Regions from separate parts of the Homo sapiens genome. Here region 2 is linked to region 1. The links come from fine-mapping of genetic effects on gene expression. A gene starts in region 1. The other region holds a variant in brackets. All regions are shown on one strand. Distances are between the middles of the regions. Region 1 holds the start of LRRC52-AS1 (LRRC52 antisense RNA 1). Region 2 overlaps LRRC52-AS1 (LRRC52 antisense RNA 1).

Evidence for each region. PIP is the estimated chance that this variant, and not a neighbour inherited with it, causes the effect.
Region 2: its variant is the best candidate, but not a certain one, in a credible set for the expression of LRRC52-AS1 in testis (GTEx, PIP 0.67).

Annotation. Positions count from the first base shown.
Region 1 is chr1:165,580,675-165,583,510 of GRCh38, forward strand. It overlaps LRRC52-AS1 (LRRC52 antisense RNA 1), which reads right to left and starts at 1,481. Exons shown (of 7, transcript NR_026744.2): 1 at 681-1,481. It also overlaps the pseudogene RPS2P10.
Region 2 is chr1:165,539,842-165,542,677 of GRCh38, forward strand. All of the region lies in intron 3 of LRRC52-AS1 (LRRC52 antisense RNA 1), which reads right to left. Among named protein-coding and RNA genes, the nearest start is that of LRRC52, 2.7 kb to the right of the region's middle. The variant G/T (reference allele first, on the strand shown) is at 1,234.

The DNA of each region.
Region 1 (2,836 bases):
CTCCAATGGAAAGCCCAGTTCTCCTTCTTCCTAGCAGAGACTTTAGGGAAATTACTTAAACCCACTGAACGTCAGGGTCCTCATCTGTAAAATCCTCATAGGATGGTTGGGAGGGTGATCAGGTAGGAACCATGGCTTTCTCTAAGCTGCCTTTTATTTGCTGACTTTTGAGAGGGGACGTCTTACTCAGGCACAGTCACATGTGCCTGTAGCCCTAGCTACTTTGGAGGCCAAGGCAGGAGGATAGTTTGAGTCCAGGAGTTCAAGACTGCAGTGTGCTGTAACTGTGCCTATGAATAGCCACTGCTTAGGCAACACAGTGAAACCCCATCTCTAAAAGAAAAAAAAAAAAAGACCAGACATCTTAGAAAGATTCTTCAAATCCTAACCCTAGTTAGACATTAGACATTGAATGCCTCTCCTAGACTTGACTAATGGAGAAAAAATGCCTTTAAGTGTTTCATCTGTTTCATCTTACTCATTCCTCAGAACATTCTGCTGACATCAACAGCCTCCAGGCCTTTGCACATGCATGTCTTTCTTTATGAAATACACACACACATGCACACATGTCTCTACACCCTGCTTATTCTATAAATCCATATTCATCCTTCAACTTCTTGCTCAAGTATCACTTCTATTTTAAAATTTCCCAGACACCACAGCCTGCCCCAACTCACCCATTCTCACTGCAGTGACGGCTCCCAGAACCTGAACAAACCACAAGTCTGATCTTGCCGCACTGTGATGACTGATCTTCTGGTTTCTCCCCAACAACCATGGGTTCCCCAAAAAGCAATACTTTGTAACCCTAGCACTTGCTATCATGCCTAATGTCTAGCAAGTACGCACAATTTGTTGCGTTAATATATTCCACATGTAGCTTCTTCTCCGAGAAAACACCAAATGGCGGATGACGCCGGCGCAGCCGGCATTGGGTTGCGGGGGGAGTCCCGGAGGCCCCGGGGCCCTGGGATGGGGAACCATGGTGGCTTCCGTGGAGGTTTCGGCAGTGGCATCCGAGGCCGGGGTCACTGCCGTGGACCAGGCTGGGGCCGAAGCCACGGAGCTCGCGGAGGCAAGGCCAAGGATAAGGAGTGGATGCCCGTCAGCAAGCTGGGCTGCCTGGTCAAGCACATGAAGATCACTTCCCTGGAGGAGATCTGTCTCTTCTCCCTGCCCATCACGGAATCTGAGATCATTGATTTTTTCCTGGGGGGCCTCTCTCGAGGCCTAGGTTTTGAAGATTATGCCGGTGCAGAAGCAGACCGGAGCCGGCCAGCGAACCAGGTTCAAGGCGTTTGTGGCCATTGCGGGCTACAACGGTCACGTCGGTCTGGGTGTTAAGTGCTCCAAGGAGGTGGCCACTGCCATCCACAGGGCCATCATCCTGGCCTAGCTCTCCATTGTCCCCATGCGCAGAGGTTACTAGGGGAACAAGATCGGCAAGCCCTACACCATCCGTTGCAAGGTGACGGGCTGCTGCGGCTCCGTGCTCGTGCGCCTCATCCGCGTGCCCAGAGGCACCGGTATCGTCTCGGCGCCTGTGCCCAAGAAGTTGCTCATGATGGCTGGTATCGATGACTGCTACACCTCAGCCAGGGGCTGCACTGCCACTCTGAGCAACTTCGCCAAGGCCACCTTTGATGCCATCTCTAAGACCTACAGCTACCTGACCCCTGACCTCTGGAGGACGGCTGTATTCACCAAGTGTCCCTATCAAGAATTCACTGACCACCTCGCCAAGACCCACACCAGAGTCTCCGTGCAGAGGACCCAGGCTCCAGCTGTAGCTACAACATAGGGTTTTTATACAAGAAAAAGAAAGTTAATTAAGCCTGTAAAATATACATACATATATGTGTGTGTATATATACATATTATATATGTATATATGTGTGTGTATATACATTATATATATGTATATATGTGTGTATATATACATATATACGTATATATGTGTGTATATATACATATATACGTATATATGTGTGTATATATACATATATACGTATATGTGTCTATATACATATATACGTATATGTGTGTGTATACATATATACGTATGTATGTGTGTATACATATATACGTATGTGTGTGTATACATATATACGTATGTATGTGTGTATACATCTATACGTATGTATGTGTGTGTATACATCTATACGTATGTATGTGTGTATACATATATACGTGTATACGTATACACATATGTATATGTGTATACATATACACATATATGTGTATGTATGTGTATACATATACACATATATGTGTATGTATGTGTATACATATACACATATATGTGTATGTATGTGTATACATATACACATATATGTGTATGTATGTGTATACATATACACATATATGTGTATGTATGTGTATACATATACACATATATGTGTATGTATGTGTATACATATACACATATATGTGTATGTATGTGTATACATATACACATATATGTGTATGTATGTGTATATGTATGTATATATACACATATACATACATGCATGTATATATGTATGTATATGTATACATATATACATACATTGTATATACGTATACATATACACACATATATGTATATACGTATACATATACACACATATATGTATATACGTATACATATACACACATACATACATATATACACATACATACATATATACACATACATACATACATATATGTATATGTGTATATATACATATATGTGTATATATTCCAACTGTAAAATATACATATATGTGTGTATATATATATTCCACCTGTAATATATATATACATTCCACCTGTAAAATATAAAATTATGACACTGATTTTTAAAGTGTTA
Region 2 (2,836 bases), 41 kb before region 1:
TCAAGTTTCAGGCATAAGGACTGCTACACATAATCTTAGCCATGGGCAACAGTTTATTGATTTGCTATAAGCTGAAAACATGATCTAATTCTGCCCCTAAAAAGGGTATACAATTTACAGGCTTCCCCTTGGATTCCTCTGGACAGTGAATCCTGCAGAAGTATAGAATGCGGATGAAGCCTGGAAATCAAAGATATCCCTGGGGAATGCAACAAATGGGAGTGATTTCCTCTGGCCCTCTGGCCTTTACTCTGTTAGAGTCCAATCTCCCTAGTGGAGACTCCGGCAGCCTGAAGGGAAAAGACAAAAATAGTTTCTACCAGCTGGCACAGCAAACAGAACCAAGGCTCATGAATAGACAGATACACACATATTCAGCCCTTAGGCCTCAGCCTTCCCGGCATGTTTTGGAACTCTTTTTCCACTTTCAGGCTGAACTTTTTGTCCCCAAGCCCCACACCTGCTGAGAGATGAGTTTGCTGAAGAGGGCCCAGGCAGTGTCAAAAGTCTGGAGTGAACTGGATACCATAAGTGGCTCCTACACCAAAGTCCTTGAGACTGTTACATTCTTTAGACCTGAACCCACAACATTCCCTGCCTGGGGAGCAGTTTAACAAAGTACTGACTTGTGTGCCCCTACGTTGCTAACCCCATGTAAGTCCTAAGTTGAGCACATTGGCAGTTTCAATGGAATAAAATGGCATGTGCACTTCCTTCTGCTATTTTTCTCCTGAGAAAATAAAAGCATGCCAAAATTAAATATCCCTTAGCACTTGTACCCAGACAGCTGAGTGGACTATTTACTAGCTAACATTCATGGTCTGCTTTGTAATCGCTTGACTCTGTCTTAGTTGCTTGGGCTTTGACGCTTCAATCATCTGTTCTCTCCCTTCACAACTGAAGTTTGATGGAACTTTAAAACTGGGAAAGCCTTTGGAGAGCGTCCTGTCTTGTTTTACAGAAAGAAAATCAGGGCTTTGAGAGGGCACGATGTCATACTGCCTCAGCTTCTCAATTGTGTTCACTTTGCCCTATATCACCCAGCCTCTTCTTTGTATGATATCAGGGCCTGTGCCCACCTGTCCTTTGGATCACCAGAGAGCTGTTTGGAGGCACACTGGCACCTGAGAGGGATCATTAAGCTGGGAAGACAGTGCCTCCATCAGATACAGCTAAAAATAGGAGCCTGCCTGAGAGCAGAGTCAGCTAGCGCGATTGTATGAGACAGGAGGG[G/T]CCTCTCCAAGTGCTCACTTGATGCTTCACCTGTCCTCCTGGAAGGATGGGCACACCAGCTATCCAAGGGGCAGGGGCAGGCTAATAAAACAGCCACACACACGAAGGGCGACCATGCTGCATCTGAAGCTGCATGAGCCGCTCACTGGGTAGAGAGATTGTCCTTTTTGCAGCCACATGATAGGTGGGACTATATGGTGTGATTAGAAGGAGTAGAAAGGCGGCCGGGCATAGTGGCTCACGCCTGTAATCCCAGCACTTTGGGAGGCCGAGGCGGGTAGATCACGAGGTCAGGAATTTGAGATCAGCCTGGCCAACATGGTGAAACCCTGTCCCTACTAAAAATACAAAAATTAGCTGGGTGTGGTGGCGCACATCTGTAATCCCAGCTACTCGGGGGGCTGAGGCAGGAGAATCACTTGAACCTGGGAGGCAGAGGTTGCAGTGAGTCAAGATAACACCACTGCACTCTACTAAAAATACCAAAAAAAATTAGCTGGGCATGGTGGTGGGGGCCTGTAATCCCAGCTACTTGGGAGGCTGAGCAAGAAGAATAGCTTGAACCTGGGAGGCAGAGGTTGCAGTGAGCCAAGATCGTGCCATTGCACTCCAGCCTCTACTGGTTTGCTGGGTGATGCCTGAAACCTTTCCATTATGAAGGAATTTGGAAGTCCTAAAGACACTTGGAAATTATCTACTTCATTTCCCTCAATATGTAGATGACAGAAATAAAGCCCAGAGAAATTAAGCACCTCAACCAAGAACAAACAGCCTAGTCTAGGACTTCCCAAAGCAGGATTTCTGAAATAATAGTTTCACAAGTTGTTCTTTGAAAACAAAATTTATTTAAGGTTCTGAAATCAGGTAATTCAAGCAATGCTACATTCTCTTTTCTTTGTCTAGTCTGCTTCTTCTTTATCGAACATATATTTATTCAGTCTCAAAATGAGGTACACACTTTAGAGATGTGGTCTAACCTGGCAAAGCTGAAACTAGCCCATGAGTGTCCAGGTTTCAGGACCAAAAACAATACAGCTACCTCAAACAAAAAGAATATTCCCTGAGGTTAAACCACTCATAGTGCTTTGTGAAAATGGTAATACTCCAGAGCCAGGCATAGCTGACTGGTGTCAGTCAATAACCTTTAGCATGATATATTTACCTAAGGCTTTTCTAAGCAGAGCACTTGTAACCATACGGCCAAACAGGTAGGCCTAATCCTGAGACTACTATCTTGAGAAAGCTAGTATGGATAATGAGGCTGGAAATGAAGTAGGGCAACCTGGAGATGGGGCCGTCTGAGGGGAAGAAGTCAGAAAGAGGGAGAATGGCATAAAAGAAAAGGTGACACGTCAGCAAAATCACTCCATGAGCTTTGGCGAGTGAATCAGTGATCATTTCTCATGGAAAGGAAGCAGACAACAAACACAGCCCTTCCAAACAAAGTATCCCTGCCACACTCCACCAGCAAAACACACCCTCGCCACAGCTCCCAGAGCAGTCACTTTGGAAATTAATTCTTTTCTATAGACTTCATGTGCTAGATTTCTCTCCTCGGCAATCACATAAGATCTAGAAAGGAACTTATATTTTAATAGAATTT